Linked DNA regions of Homo sapiens: region 2 is linked to region 1. Evidence: fine-mapped expression QTL. A gene starts in region 1. The other region holds a variant in brackets. All regions are shown on one strand. Distances are between the middles of the regions. Region 1 holds the start of NDUFB3 (NADH:ubiquinone oxidoreductase subunit B3). Region 2 overlaps ORC2 (origin recognition complex subunit 2).

Evidence for each region. PIP is the estimated chance that this variant, and not a neighbour inherited with it, causes the effect.
Region 2: its variant is fine-mapped to the expression of NDUFB3 in whole blood (INTERVAL, PIP above 0.99).

The regions. Positions count from the first base shown.
Region 1 is chr2:201,068,000-201,076,489 of GRCh38, forward strand. It overlaps NDUFB3 (NADH:ubiquinone oxidoreductase subunit B3), which reads left to right and starts at 4,002. Exons shown (of 3, transcript NM_002491.3): 1 at 4,002-4,060. HYCC2 (hyccin PI4KA lipid kinase complex subunit 2) reads right to left here and starts at 3,672. Exons shown (of 13, transcript NM_001321623.1): 1 at 3,611-3,672. RefSeq lists enhancers at 3,145-3,284, 3,275-3,900, 3,385-3,654, 3,675-3,764, 3,901-4,524.
Region 2 is chr2:200,912,941-200,921,430 of GRCh38, forward strand. ORC2 (origin recognition complex subunit 2) reads right to left here. Exons shown (of 18, transcript NM_006190.5): 14 at 8,053-8,199; 15 at 7,282-7,453; 16 at 991-1,052; 17 at 355-473. Among named protein-coding and RNA genes, the nearest start is that of NIF3L1, 28 kb to the left of the region's middle. The variant C/CTT (reference allele first, on the strand shown) is at 4,053.

The DNA.
Region 1 (8,490 bases):
ACAGGCTGGGTGCAGTGGCTCACACCTGTAATCCCAGCACTTATGGAGGCCGAGGCAGGCGGATCACCTGACGTCCGGAGTTCGAGACCAGCCTGACCAACTTGGAGAAATCCCGTCTCTACTAAAAAAAATGCAAAATTAGCCGGGCGTGGTGGCACATGCCTGTAATCCCAGCTACTCCGGAGGCTGGGGCAGGAAAATGGCTTGAACCCGGGAGGCAGAGGTTGCTGTGAGCCCAGATCGCGCCACTGCACTCCAGCCAGGGCAACAAAAGTGAAACTACGTCTCAAAAAAAGAAAAAAAAAAGCTATCCTAGCTATGACATGAAATGGTGACAATTTATTGAGCTATAAAAGTATTAGTAAATTAGTAGATTTGGCAGCCCTTTCTCTAAAGCTGAAACTACTGTTACTGCTTCATACCACAAGTGCTAGAGCCTTGAATTAGACCAAGGCACTTCCACTCTGAAGTGGAAGCCAGTGGTGAACCAAATTAATCAAGGGAATTTGTTTCCAAAATACATCTACCCCCTTCACACTCCTCCCATCCGTAAAATTCTGAAGGGAAGTGGAGATGATATAAGTGATATGTGTATGCCTTTTTAAAAACTCCTAAATTGTTTTGAGGTATCTATTTCCAACTCCATGAAGAATTCTTAAATTAGGTCCAAACTTTTTCAAAACACTGTATCTATCACAGGCTTAAGGAGCAGAGCTACAAAGTGACAAGGGCTCAACAGAAGGCTAGGAAGGTAAGGAGCTGTACTCGGAACAGATGTAAGCTACTTTCAGAGCTTTCTGTGCTGGCTCCCTCCAGAATCCACTACATTTTAGTCAGTGATAAATGTTCAGTTCCACATCCCAAGAAAAGAACATAGGCTACTGACCAGATAAAGTGTAAAAAGAAGCAATTCTGGAAATCAAAAAAAAGATAATAAGCCACAGACGATGACAGACAAAAAAATCTTCTGTTCTGGCTTTAAAAGAACAGTAACTCGGAACAAGGATCTCTAAGGGGAAAAAAAAAGAACAATACAAAGTACTGGTATGATAACTAGTTTTGAAACTTCTGCCCATATTTTATCAGTTTTTCACTATGTAGCATTGGTTTTTCTATAAGACTCAGTCAAGCTGAAAATTTCAATCATTCTAGAACTTAATAAACTACTACAAGATGCCAAAACTGTATTGCAAATAATCAAACTTAAATCTGAATTGCATGTCAAGACAGTTAAAGGGCCGGGCTAAAAAACACACTTTCAAGGTCTATTTTAGGGCAAACAATTAAACTCCTTTACAATCATTGTTTCAAATTCCTTATAAACAGCTCCAATACTGAAATGTTTCATCAGAGAGAACTTCTATAACGTATAAACGATCATCTAACCACACTATATGCTAATTTGGACTAGTGTTTCTTTAGCTACTTGGTAATTTCCTACTCGATACTCAACTTACTGCATTCTACAATGACACCTACTGGCCATTCAAAATCAGCCATTAGTTCTCTAAGACAGCTCTAGTAGGCTGGTTACATAAGAAGAAACACACACACACACACACACACACACACACACACACACACACACACGCATAAAAGCAACACACACACACACACGCATAAAAGCAAAGATTTAACTGGTACTCAAAACACTACAGAATTCCACCTAAAATAGAACCAGAAATTTTCTTTGTGACTGAGATTGCATTATTCTTGGAAAAGGAGAAAAGACAAAGAACAAAACACCAAACATCAATAAAAATTTTTATCTAAAGCACTGACAAATGTCTCAGTACTGAGAACATCTGGGAACAAACAACTTTAATGATGCACCTCTTTCCCAATTAAATTTTTGAGAAAAAATGAAATTTTGATTTAGGTTCATATATAGGAATATAAATTACCATTAATAGAAAAAAATCACATCTTATAAAGTTTTTCTGACATGCAGTACCGAAATAAATTTAGGAAAATTGTAGAGTTGCTGACACTACATTAGACCTTATCTCCTAAGCTAAAGGCAATATTTCAAACACCTTACATTTTAGAAATTTATAACACTTCTTTTAAAATCATTTTCCAGTGCTGCTCTCAAAATTGTTTTTCAATGACCTACAAAATCAAGTTTTTATGTCGTTTGCCCTTCCATAACACATACTGAATAGAATTCCTATTTTAATTCTACATTTTATTGTGGAAACAATGAATTATAAAATTTTTTTAAATAAGATAATTTAGTTAATTATATCTATAAATATATTTTGCCTCTGTCCGAGAGGTTCAGAGTCCACTTTTTAAACCTAATAAATAATTCATAAGTAGCTTCTCAGACTTGCTTACAGAACAAACTACTTAAAAGTTGACTTTTTTCTGCCGGGCACGGTGGCTCACGCCTGTAATCCCAGCACTTTGGGAGGCCGAGGCGGGCGGATCATCTGACGTCCGGAGTTCGAGACCAGCCTGACCAACATGGAGAAACCCCGTATCTACTAAAAATACAAAATTAGTCGGGCGTGGTGGCGCATGCCTGTAATCCCAGCTACTCCGGAGGCTGGGGCAGGAGAATGGCTTGAACCCGGGAGGCGAAGGTTGCTGTGAGCCGAGATCGCGCCATTGCACTCCAGCCTGGGCAACAACAGCGAAACTCCGTCTCAAAAAAAAAAAAAGTTTATTTTTTTCCCCATATTCAGACCACCACCTTATTTGCACAGTCCCTAACTTCCACAATATCCTGGGGGGAGGAAGGGATCTACCAACTAATTTTCTAGTCATTTTCCAACTTACACTGAGCTCCTACTGTACATTTTTAAAGGATTCCCCACTTTTCTGAAGATCTTTAAAAAATGTTGTCAGCCTTGACCCTCAAATAAATTCACGAACTACAAAACATGAACCTGGCCACATTCATCGCAAACTAGTATCTGTCAAGTCCATAATTGGGATAAGCTCTTCGTGACTACTCTATCCTCCATGCTACCACCCTTCGCCTAGAGAACCTGCCAATGTAAATGGCACTCAAGCCAATGAAAAAAGTGTTCTAACACATTAATAGGTTGCAAGACCTCCTCTCCCAGGAGGGACAACCTAGTTGTTTGGGTAAATAACAGCCAAAGATTACATAATGTACAGCAATAATGAGTGTTCAGAATCTGACCGCCAGTAAATATTTTTCTTCTCCGCTCCCCCTCACCACCCCCAGGAAATGGCCCTAAGAAGCAATCACTGGGATTTCTCTTAACTGTCTTCAATGCCGTGTCCTTTTCTCGCCTGGGGCTTTGTGCAAAGAATCCCTTCAGCCCTCACGACACCGCCTTGCTCCCGCCTCTCCTCCCTCTCTGCTGGCGCCACCGCAGCCCCCACGCCCTAGGTGGGCCCCCACGTCGCCCCACAAGGCTCGGCTTCCACCCGCCTCGGCTGCCGCCTTCTCCTCCTCACGACCCTCCCAAGATGCTACCTGGTTTACGAGAGGTTCCGGGACCACCAACACACCGGCTACCGCCTTTCCAGACCACCCTCGCCAGCTCCCGTCTGTAGTTTCCGCGGCCGAAGGAGAAGAAAACCCCTCTTCATCTAGCACTTTGCCTCCCCCAAAGACAGCACCGCCGCCTACCTGTCACCCTGCTGTCTCCGGCTTCCTACCGCCGCCGCCTCCCGCAGCAGCCTGCCAACTGCAGCGCAACAACCAACCCTCTCATTGGGTGAGAACACGCTCTCAACAACAGCCTCCCTTATTGGCTGCAGTATGCCGGCAGCCCCGCCCTGTGTGCGGTGTCTAAGGATTCCGTCCCCAAGCAAGGACAACATATTATCTTCCCCGCCCTTCTCTTTTCTACAGTATCTGTTACCTCAGTCAGATTGAGGATGCACATATACTGGGAAAATAATCGACTTCCAGCGTCCCTCATGTAGTCTCTACCTGATTCAGGAATCTCTAACCCAGTATCGGAACGTTAAGCGGCTTCTCCGCTTTCCTGCCGTGAGAAACTCGAGGTGACAACCTCCGTTTCCGGTTGGCTCCGGTTGCAGAGTTGAGTGTCCTGAGAGGTCAGATTGCTGTCAGGTAAATTAGGGAGTTGGTGGGAGGCCCGTTGATTAGGATTAAGAGCTAGACTCTATTCTGGGGAGTGCAGAAAAGGAGAGACTAAATGGAGAAGGATGGGAGGCTGGGAGGGAGATCAAAGAACTAGCAGGCGAGAACTAATGAAGTCCTAGTTTAGAGTTGGGGTAGGAAGAGGTGGTTGGAGGATTCAGTGATCATTACTGTAGTTGTTAAATCCAGGTGCTTGTTCCCGCTTCTGCCACACGCAAAATTGTCTTTGTTTGCCTTTGGATCGCAAAGGCAGAAGAACAGCATCACTAAAAGTAATAACAGTTCATTTGTTTTTTATGTTCTAATATTCATATAATCACAGTTTTTAATACGAGGAAGTTAAGATATATACTTGATAGTCTTCGGTAAACTAAAATTGCATGTAGTGGAAGTAGCATTATCTTCTTATTTCTTTCTTAGGGAAAGGATACCAGCACATTTTCTTAGAGCCAGCTTCCTTTAGTGGAGGTTGATCTTCATGAGACTTTTAGATTCACTTCAGACATAGATAGCTTTTAAAATTTTTGGTTGCATGTTTTTTCTTTATTTAACTAATTTCCTTACTGTTATTATTTGAGCTGCTCTGAAACGGAAATAACCACCATTTTTCAGTCCTCAGCACAATTTAAGTCAATTTTTCTATTTTTATTTTTTATTGTCAAGTATATATACAGAAGGGTGTATAAAACATACATTTTAAAAAATTATAACTAACAGAAGCAGACACTCCTGTATCCACCTCTTAGATTAGAAAATAAAGCATTGCCAATAACTTAGAACATGCAGTCTTAACAGGGGTGATTTTACATTTCAAGGGGTTGAAAATTGGTGGGGCCGGGGTCGGAATCTTAGTTACTACAATGATTTGTGTCCCTCCAAAGGGCCACAGTATATAAACAGTTATACAGTATATATGTAGTGTTAAATTTTCATGGCGGGGGGTGTGATTAGGAATAAAATGTCTAGAAAGGTTCCTTACAGGGACAATAGTTAAAAATTGGTTGAAAAACACTGCCTTAGAATCTCCCAGTATGTTTCTGTGATTCCATCTCCTCCACCAAGAGGTAACCATTATCCTGACTTGTGCTAAGCACTCACTTGTTTTACTTTAATTTTTCCGTCTATGATGAATTCCTAAAAAATGAATTGTTAGGCATTTCAATCTATATAAATGGGTTCAGAGTGCATGTGTATTTTTTTCTGACTCACCCCTTGCTCATTATCCATATTTGTGGAGATTCAATCACACTTTTGCATGTAGTTTTTTGTTGTATAATATTCTACAGTGTGACTATACCATAATCCCTTCTATTGTTATTGGACATTTGGGTTGTTTACAGTTGGGAGAGAGAATAAACAATGTGGCTATAAAGGTTCTTTTAAAAACATATTTCTTAGGCTGGGCACGGTGGCTCACGCCTGTAATCCCAACACTTTGGGTGGCCGAGGCAGGCGGATAATGAGGTCCAGAGATCGAGACCATTCTGACCAACATGGTGAAACCCAGTCTCTACTAAAAGTACAAAAAATTAGCCGGGTGTGGTGGTGCACGCCTGTAATCCCAGCTACTCGGTAGGCTGAGGCAGGAGAATCACTAGAACCTGGGAGGCGGAGGTTGCAGTGAGCCGACATTGCACCACCCACTGCACTCCAGCCTGGCGACAGAGTGATACTCCATCTCAAAAAAAAAATTTGTTTTTTTTTAAAGACTAGAGGCTTGATGTCTCTAAGAAAATATTTTAAATATATTTTTTATATTCCATAAATATAAACCTTTGATCTGTGATTATGTTTATAAGATTTACAGTTGATAAAGTAGATTCATATATCCAAATTGTTCCAAAGACACTTTTATTTATTTATTTTATTTGTATATTTTTTGAGACAGAGTCTCGCTCTGTCGCCCAGGCTGGAGTGCAGTGGCGCGATCTCGGCTTAGTGCAATCTTCACCTCCCAGGTTCAAGTGATTCTTCTGTCTCACCCTCCCTAATAGCTGGAACTACAGGCATGTGCTACCATGCCCAGCTAATTTTTTTATTTTTAGTAGAGACGGGATTTTGCCATGTTGGTTAGGCTTTTCTTGAACTCCTGACCTCAGGTGTTCCACCTGCCTCAGCCTCCCAAAGTGCTGGGATTACAGGCGTGAGCCACCGCTCCTGGCCTCCAAAGACACATTAATATTTTCTAATAACGATTTGATCATCTGTTTTGAGATTAAGTTAATTAAAATTAAATTAAAATTCCCAGTTCCCAACTGCACCAGCCACATTTCAAGTGCTAGTGGCTACCATATTGGACAGTGTCTATCTAGAATATATGTACTAGGAGTGGAATTGATGGCCATAAGGTATTCATATGTTCAGCTTTTTTTTTTTTTTTTTTTTGAGATAGAATCTCACTCTGTCACCCAGGCTGGAGTGCAGTGGCGCAATCTCGGCTCACTGCAACCTCCACCTCCTGGGTTCAAGTGATTCTCATTCCTCAGCCTCCTGAGTAGCTGGGACTACAGGTGTGTGCTACCACACCTGGCTAATTTTTGTATTTTTAGTAGAGACAGGGTTTCCCCATGTTGGCCAGGCTGGTCTCAACTCCTGGCCTCAAGTGATCCACCTGCCTTGGCCTCCCAAATTGCTGGGATTACAGGCGTGTGCCACTGCGCCCAGCCATGTTCAGCCTTTCTAGGTCTTGCCAGTTTTTCAGAATGGTTGTGCTTAGTTACATTCTCACCACCTAAGTATGAAAGTAGAAGGCACATCACAATGTGTTTTCCTCAGCTCTCACGATCTTGCAAGGTAGGTTTTATCTTCATGTTATATGAAGAAACTGAAGTTCAGGGAAATTAAGTGATTTGCCTTGGATTTTACTTTTACTAGTGCAAAGTAGGAGAATTTCAAGCTCTTACTTTACAGGTCACGATATCATTGTTTGATTTATGGCTATTTGGAAATAGAAATAAGTTTAAAAAGAAAAATGGGCCAGGTGCCATGGCTCACGCCTGTAGTCCCAATATTTTAGGAGGCCAAGGAGGGAGGAATGCTTGAGGCCAGGAGTTCAACAGCAGCCTGGGCAACATAGGAAGATCCTGTCTGAAAAAAAAAAAAAAAAGAAAAAGAAAAAAGAAAATGAAAGGTTTCCTAGAGAAAGTGTTTTCAACTTTCTGCTCTTTTTGAAAAGTCATTTATATGTTATATTTAGCCGGGCACCGTGGCTCATGCCTGTAATCCCAGCACTTTGGGAGACCCAGGTGGGCGGATCACAAGGTCAGGAGATCGAGACCATCCTAGCTAACACGGTGAAACCCCATCTCTACTACAAAATGCAAAAAATTAGCCAGGCGTGGTGGGGGGTTCCTGTAGTCCCAGCTACTCGGGAGGCTGAGGCAGGAGAATTGCTTGAACCTGGGAGTCACAGGTTGCAGTGAGCCAAGATTGCGCCACTGTACTACAGCCTGGGCGACAGAGCGAGACTCTGTCTCAAAAAAAAAAAAAAAAAAAAAAGGTATATTTAGTAAATTCCTATGAAAAGGATACTTCTGAAATAATTAGGTAGAAGAGAAAATACATTGAATGTATTTAAATAAACTTGTATAGGAGAAATGAGGGTATGTACGCTTTCATGTTTTCTTTCAAAGATTTATCTTTCAAATTACTTGTTTAAGCACAGTAGTATTGTAATTTTGAAATAGTCTTTATACCATGGTAATGTTTCAAGTTTTATTTTCAAAAACTATTCTATCAAAATTCTTGACCCTTTGTTTTATACTCTCTTCCAAATACACTGATACTCAGGTTGATATTCTAGAATTGACATTTGCCAAAATAAGGGTTTGTCTTGTTTTAAGTGTTTTTAAAATGAAGCCTTATTTTAAAAAAGATTTTTTGAAAACATGGTATGCAGAAGCCAAGACATTATCATTCTAAATAAACACTTGTAATGGTCTTCGTTTGTAATAAATGTATTCAGTCTCAAAAGTCAGTCTGAAGTCTGACACCATAATTTTTTTCCTTCATTTTATTGAATCTACCAAGTAATAATGGGTTAAATGTTTCATTCAGAGTTGTGTTGTAATTTTAACTTGTGTTTGAGAGTATCGGTTTTCATTTTCATTTTCATTTAAATGTGAAAATCCTCCTGGGTGTGGCTGTAATCCCACTGTAATCCCAGCATTTTGGGAGGCCTATGCCAGAGGATCAAGGATCACTTGAGGCCAGGAGTTTGAGACCAGCCTGCACAACATAGGGAGGGTCCATCGCTATAAAACATTTAAAAACTAGCCAGGCGTTGTGCACACTCCAGTCCTAGCTACTCAGGAGGCTGAGGCAGGACAATCACTTGAGCCCAGGAGTTTGAGGCTGCAGTGAGCTATGATCCAGAGCAAGACCCTCTATCTTTAAATATA
Region 2 (8,490 bases), 160 kb before region 1:
ACTGTATCCTAATACTTAGTGCAATATCTATGTAGTTAGTACTCAATAAATACAGACCAAATTAATGAATGAGCAAGAGGGAAAAAACAAAAGAACAGAATTATTTGACTCACCATGTTTCTAATTGCCTATTACTCTGGACTAGAACATGTGAGTTTTCTGCTCTGCTCTGAAGCAGGGTACTTCTACCATGGCTCTTTCTACAAACTCAAATGGCACATCCCCTAAATGAATCTCTGTGACTCAACAGGGAACATCAGTTTCAAAATCAGGTCTAAGTCAAACATATATGTGTCCTTAAGTAAATGATACGGACTATTCCTGGCATACAATGCTACAATAGTGGAGTCTTACCTTCTTTGTTCTTATAAGCTTGTGGTCCCTAAATTCAGTTAACTGGGCCCGGAGTGTCAGATCACTATTGACGAGGAATGCCTCCCGACACTGCTGGTAAAAATCTTGAAAAGAAAGGCCTGGCAAGTTCAAAAGGATATGAACATAAGTCAGCACTTAAGACATGACCCAATATACAAACACCCATACAAAAGAACAGAATAAAAGTGCTATTTGCATGTTATCCCAGAGCAGTGAACAAGTATTGATAGGACTTTTAAAGAAGGAACAAGTAAGTCATGAGAGCAGAACAATTATTAAAATGTTTGTTGAAATCATTTTTGCCAAAGGGGAAGAAAATCTCCTAAGATGCCTAGAATATGAAAAATATGTACTTGGCAGATACACATCCATAGTTAGCACAGAAAATTTTAAAAGTAAGCTGGGTTTGTCTTTCAATTTGTGTTGGCAAACACCTTGCTCAGCAGTGGATCTGTAGAGCTGCTTGAAAATTTGCTATGTGGCAGACATACCCATCATGAGTGACCACTTACTCACTGCTGTGAAAAACTGCACTGCTGTCATTAAATTCCAGAGACAGGAAATGTACAGGGTAAAACAAAAATTACACAATTGAATGTCATAAATATTGGATACCAATGTAAGAAGGGTTATCCTGGTTGTCCAGCTGGTATTTTATTAGTAGCCTGAAAATTCCCCTAAAAAAAAAAAAAAACAGGAATTTAAATCCAAAAATGTTAACATCAAAAGGTAACAACTAATAGTAAAATACACAAAGAAAATGTCAAGTAGTTGGCCTATCCGCATTATCTTCTGTTCCTCCAAGGAATATCATATCCTTGCCTACTTAAACAGAAAGCTTTCTAATTTCTTTTTTTTTTTTTTTTTTGAGACGGAGTCTTGCTCTGTTGCCCAGGCTGGAATGCAGTGGCATGATCTTGGCTCACTGCAAGCTCTGCCTCCCGGGTTCACGCCATTCTCCTGCCTCAGCCTCCCAAGTAGCTGGGACTACAGGTGCCCACCACCATGCCTGGCTAAATTTTTTGTATTTTTAGTAGAGATGGGGTTTCACCGTGTTAGCCAGGATGGTCTCGATCTCCTGATCTCGTGATCCGCCCGCCTCGGCCTCCCAAAGTGCTGGGATTACAGGCGTGAGCCACTGTACCCGGCCCGCTTTTTTATTTCTTCTAAAGAAAAATATAGGCTGAGTGTGGTGCCTCACACCTATAATCTCACCCCTTTGGGAGACTGAGGTGGGAGGACTGCTTGAGCCCAGGAGTTTGAGACCACCCTGGGCAATATAGTGAGACTCTGTCTCTATAAAAAATTAAAAAATTAGCCAGGCATACTGGTATGCGCCTATGGTCTCAGCTACTCGGGAGGCTGAGGTGCAAAGATCACTTGAGCCTGGGAGCTTGAGGCTGTACTTGAGTGACAGACACCCTGTCTCAAAAAAATAAAATATGAAAGTATTTTTTTCTTACTTTTTAGGTTAGTGTTGGTAGAAAAGCTGGAATACAGAATAACATCTAAAGAGAAAAATATCAATCCCATATCCATTAACACTTGGTGTTGAGATCATACTGGGTATGCTGTTATCTCAAATCTTTGTGCAATGAGGCGGGTGGAAATAACAGAAATTCACACATTTATATACTGCATATACCACTTTATACCTTGCTTCTTCACTTTTTGATTCTTCCCACGTCTTTTTTTTTTTTTTTTTTTTTTTTTTTTTGAGACAGAGTTTCGCTCTTGTTGCCCAGGCTGGAGTGCAATGGCGCGATCTTGGCTCACCGCAACCTCTGTCTCCCGGGTTCAAGCGATTCTCCTGCCTCAGCCTCCGAGTAGCTGGGATTATAGGCATGTGCCACCACCCCAGCTAATTTTGTATTTTTAGTAGAGACGGGGTTTCGCCATGTTGGTCAGGCTGGTCTTGAACTCCCGACCTCAGGTGATCCACCCGCCTCGGCCTGATTTTTCCCATGTCTTTAAAACTTCTCCTAAACAAGTTTTTCTTTTCTTTTTTTTTGCCACATGTAAGAAGAACTTAAGGAAGTTTTAACAACTGCTTATCTACCATGTACCATAAACTTACCATTTCCCTATTGGTTTGGATGTTTACATTATTTCTAAGTTTAGATTAAAAATAACTCTTAATGGATGACTGGATACAGAAAAAATAACTCAGCACTAAATAAAACTGTACGTATTTCTTTGTATTTTGAATTATTCCATGGAAGAGTGAACCAAGTAGAATTATGGGGTTAGAAGCAGTATTACACAAACTAAGACTCCCATCAGTCCTTGGGTATGCCAAAAATTCAAAACTTATATGAATTTTCATTGTTATGCAGGTCCAGAAAACAATTACTATAATCATATTTTGGATCATCTCAATGAACACTTTTTTTTTTTTGAGACAGAATCTCGCTGTTGCCCAGGTTGGAGTGCAGTGGTGCGATCTTGGCTCACTGCAACCTTGGCCTCCCAGGTTCAAGCGATTTTCATGCCTCAGACTCCTGAGTAGTTGCGATTACAGGTGGACACCACCACGCCCAGCTAATTTTTTATATTTTTAGTAGACACAACGTTTTACCATGTTGGCCAGGCTGGTCCTGAACTCCTGGCGTCAAGTGATCCGCCCACTTCAGCCTCCCAAAGTGCTAGGATTATAGGAGTGAGCCACCGCATCCGGCCCTCAATGACTACTTTTTAACTAGGTACTACTACTAACTCCAGAGCTGAATTTTGGTTAAAATTTTTATTCAATCACATACCAAGTAAAGTCTAAATGATACTGGAGTTTGCAGAATCAAGCAAAATTTCAAAATAGTTTAAATAAGAAAATGCTGAGGCTAGCACACAGACATTTAGGCATGCCAAACTAAAAAATACTTGCATTAGACTGGGCATGGTGGCTCATGCCTGTAATCCCAGCACTTTGGGAGGTCAAGGTGGGTGGATCACTTGAGGTCAAGAGTTCAAGACCAGCCTGCCCAACATGGTGAAACTCCATCTCTACTAAAAATACAAAAATTAGCCAGGTGTGGTGGTGCATGCCTCTAGTCCCCGCTACTTGTGGGATGCTGAGGCATGAAAATTCCTTAAACCCCAGAGAGGGAGGTTGCAGTGAGCCGAGATCTTGCCACTGCACTCCAGCCTTGGCGACACCATGAGTCTCCATCTCAAAAAAAAAACTTGCATCAGCGTAGCCAGTGCCATATTTAACGTTTTGAGTTCTCACACTGCATGGACCCTCAACTTTACACACAGCAACTTCCAACAGTCCTTCAGCAGTTAAGGACTTTTATTATTAGTAATAACAAAACAGAATGAAGACTTTGTCCCCAATTCCATCAAAAAATTTCATTAGATAACCATTTAATGCCTATTTCAATTTTTTTATTTTATTTTATTTTATTTGAGACGGAGTCTCGCTCTGTCGCCCAGGCTGGAGTGCAGTGGTGCGATCTCGGCTCACTGCAAGCTCCGCCTCCTGGGTTCACGCCATTCTCCTGCCTCTGCCTCCTGAGCAGCTGGGACCTCAGGTGCCCGCCACCACGCCCGGCTAATTTTTTAGTAGAGATGGGATTTCACCATGTTAGCCAGGATGGTCTTGATCTCCTGACCTCGTGATCTGCCCGCCTTGGCCTCACAAAGTGCTGGGATTACAGGTGTGAGCCACTGTGCCCCAC[C/CTT]TTTTTTTTTTTTTTTTTTTGAGACAGAGTCTCACTCTGTTGCACAGGCTGGAGTGCAGTGGTGTGATCTTAGCTCAATGCAACCTTTACCTCCTGGGTTCAAGCGATTCTCCCTCCTCAGCCTCCCAAGTAGTTGGGATTACAGGCATGCACCACCATGCCCAGCTGATTTTTTAATTTTTAGTAGAGATGCGGTTTCACCATGTTGGCCAGGCTGGTCTCGAACTCCTGACCTCAAACGATCTGCCTGCTTCAGCCTCTCAAAGTGCTGAGATTACAAGCATGAGCCACCGCGCCCAGCCTGCATATTCCAATATTAATGCAAGGCTTTATTTTTACTTTTTGTAGAGATGGGGTCTACGTTGCCCAGGTTCGTCTCAAACTCCTGGCCTCATGCAATCTTCCCTCCTCAGGCTCCCAAAGTAGTAGAATTATAGGGGTGAGCCACTATGCCTGGCCGAGTTGAATGCTAATCTCATCTTCAGTGTTCAAATCAGCTTTACAGAGTAACAACATTCATTAAAATTAGCATTTGAGGGTTAACATTTGAGTCTTGTGGTGATGGTACAGCTGAGTGTATACATGGAGGTGGCAGTCATACAAGGCTACAAGTGACAAAACTGCACAGAACTTACACACACGAGTGCAGCATGTATAATAGTGAAATCCAAATATGGATGGGATTATAACAATGTCAATTTCTTGGTTCTGATACTGTACTGTGTTTATATGAGATGGTGGTGGTTGGTGGAAGTTGGTGCTTTGGGAGGAGGGTACATGAGACTTCCCTGCATGTATTTTTGTAGCTTCTTCTGAATCTATAATCATCTCACAACAAAAAGTTAATCCCTCCACCACAAACACACAGGTAAAAGAAAAATAAATGGAAAATAAATTGCTAGGGGGGGTTAAAAAAAAAAAAGATATCCCCAAAGTCCCTGTGTACACTCTCCTCTATCTATTCCCCTTTATTCTTCTCCAGGGTTGGTACCTAATTTTTTTTTATTATTTTTAGTACCTAAAAAGACCTAATTCCATGCACATTTTAAACTTTTATTCATACTGATATATACATTTGAATGCTATATATTTTATATGGTTTTATTTCTACAACAAACATCTGTTCAGTTCAGCATTTGTCCTAAACGAAAATATCTGGTTTGGACAATATATATCGTCACACTACTATCATCCCATATAAGTCAATATCCTGGCTGCCAATGCTGCTTCTAAACCAAGAATGCAGCTGTGCTGTGGCTTCAACTCTGCTCACTGATTTATCATTCTGTTGTATTGAGATGTTTGTATTTTGAGCCAGGGTATTTATTTTTAAATTCTGTCTATTATGCTGTGTGTTTGGAACAAGAGGGGATGAAAGGAAAGAGTGAGAAGTATTATGCCATCTTGACCACAAGTGTCCCTTCATTGCTCTTTAAAAACAAAAAAGAAATTGTCTCTGCTAGACTTGCTTGTTCCCTCTTTTTTTCTTTTTTCTTCTTTCTTTTTTTTTTTTTGAGACAGAGGCTCACTCTGTCACCCAGGCTGGAGTGCAGTGGCGTGATCTTGGCTTACTGCAACCTCCGCCTCCTGGGTTCAAGCGATTCTCCCACTTCAGCCTCCCAAGTAGCTGGGATTACAGGTGTGTGCCACCAAGTCCGGCTAATTTTTGTGTTTTTAGTAGAGACAGGGTTTCAGCATGTTGACCAGGATAGTCTCGAACTCCTGACTTCAAGTGATCCACCCGCTTCGGCCTCCCAAAGTGCTGGGATTACAGGTGTGAGCTACCACACCCAGCTGACTGTTTATTCTTTAGGAAACTAAATTTTCTTTCAAATTTAAAACAAAAAAATTCATTTACATTTTGACTAATTTATAGATCTAATACCTGTTTTTCTGGAGACAGGGTCTTGCTCTATCACCCAGGCTGGAGTGCAGTGGCGCAATCTCGGCTCCCTTCAGCCTCCTCAGCTGAGACTATGGGTGTACACCACCACACTCAATTAATTTTTAAAATTTTTTGTAGAGATGTAGTCTCCCTATGTTGCCCAGGCTGGTCTCAAGGTCCCAGCTGGAGCAATCCTCCTGCCTTAGCTTCGCATAGTGTTGGGATTACAGGCTTGAGCCACTGTGCCTGGCAAGTCTAACACATTTCTAACTTGGAAAGAATTGCTACTCTTATAATATTTAATCTACCCACCCAAGAACACAATATTTCTTTTCATCTATCCAGCTCTTAATTATCTATTCTCAGCAAGGTTTGTTATTTTTCAACACTTCATCTTGTTAAATATAATTCTATAATTTTATGCTTTTGTCAGGGGGTAAAGTTTGTTACTAAAAGCTTCTTTCAACAGGCTAATTATGCAATTTCTTTATTATTTTTTTGAGACAGAGATTGCTCTGTCACGCAGGCTGGAGTGCAGTGGTGCAATCTCAGCTCACTGCAACCTCTGCCTCCTGGGTTCAAGCAATTCTCCGGCCTCAGCCTCTTGAGTAGCTGAGACTACAGGTGCGTGCCACCACACCTGGCTAATTTTTGTATTTTTGGTAGAGATGGGGTTTCCCCATGTCGGCCAGGCTGGTCTCGAACTCCTGACCTCAAGTGACCCACCTGCCTTGGCCTCCCAAAGTGCTGGTATTACAGGTGTAGGCCACTGCGTCCGGCTAATTATGCAATTTATTTTTTGCTGGCTTATGCTATAACCAGCTTGCATTTATTAATTCAGATATGCCTCTAGGTTAGGCTGCTGTAAGGGCTTGACTGGAGACATTATACAGTGATGTTTAAGAGCATGAGTTTTGGAGCTGGCATATCTGGATCAAAGTCTTTGTGCCACTGACTATCCACCTTAGTTAGGATCAAATGAAGTAATGCATATAAAGTACTCACTGTTTGGATCAGAATGTTCAATATGTAATGAAAAATAACCATAAAATTTAAGTAAAAGTCATGAAAAGTCTGCTTTTTCTCCATTATGACCAGTCAGGTGCTCATATTCAGAAATATCAAAGAAATAAAAAGTTGGTATTCTCGCTTTATTACTGGGCAATTTGATAGACTACTGTTGACTTGTCTGCCTACTCCATAATCCAGTACTGGTAACTATTATTACTATAATTTCACTTAATCCTTCAACTAACTAGGGACTTCAGTATCCCCATTAAAACCTAGTAGTACATATCTTAAAATGTATAGTTTTTAAAAAAGAAATATGGTTTTCATCCTTACCTTGCATTAGGGGTAAGGCTTCGTAAGACATGAGTAAGGGAGCTAAGTGGCAGGGATCCAGACTGCTTTACCAGAAGAGAGTTCTCATAGGAGGTTTCTTCAGTATAAGGACTGTATGTAGTAGTTTCATACCAGAGCCAGTTAAAAAGACTCTGCTTTGCATGATCCCACACTAGCACATGATCAAAGAAAACAAGAATTACAAATTATTTTTATATTGTCATGTTACTAGATTCCACTTTACAAAAGAATGAGAAAGGATTAAATAAAAATGAATCCCCAAGTTTTTCATTTTTGCCACTTCCATATCTAAATCAGTAACTCACAATCTAATTTCATTTTCAACCAACATCTGAACCTTTATTTTCAATTAAGCATAAATTAAAATCTTAGCACTACCAATGCATTCTTTTTAAAAAATTAGTAATGTTTTAACATTTTCTTCTACAGGATTATCAGAAAGTCTATAAATTAAGTTCATAAAATAAATGTTGCGATATTACAAGAAGAGAAAGAGACCAAAATAATAGTTGGGTCTTTTCCCTCCATTTAACTTTAGACTAAAACATCCTCATTTAGTATCTGAATTTTTATTTCCAAAAATTATGTTCTAAATTAGATTGAGAACATCTTTTTGGCAACCTGTGTTTTTAAACATGTAAAAGGGGAAAAAGCGTACTAAAAACAGTAAAAATTTTCTGATTTATATTAATAGAATTTGTCTTGTAAGACTGATATCTCTAGAAGGAAAAATAGTAACAATTAACTTACTGAGAGGAGCATTGAGGTGGTCAATGGATGCTATAAGGTAAATGTTATGCAAAGATGACAACTGACCAATGATTTGCTGGCTCTTCTCTCCTCTCAACATCTGGCTATCCAAATTGTGGATGAGAAGGAAGAGTTCTAAAGAAGAATCTAAAAAGAAAAGAAATCCAATTATTATTATTATTATTTTTAGAGGGTCTCACTCTGTTGCCTAGGCTAGAGTGCAGTGGTACAATCATAGCTCACTGCAGCCTCCAACTCCTGGACTCAAGCAATCCTCCCACCTCAGCCTCTCGATTACCTGGAACTAGGCGCACACCACCATGCCTGGCTAATTGTTTTTTTGGTAGAGACGGGGTCTCACTAAGTTGCCCAGGTTGGTCTTGAACTCCTGGACTCAACTTGGCCTCCCAAAGTGCTAGGATCACAGACGTGAACCAC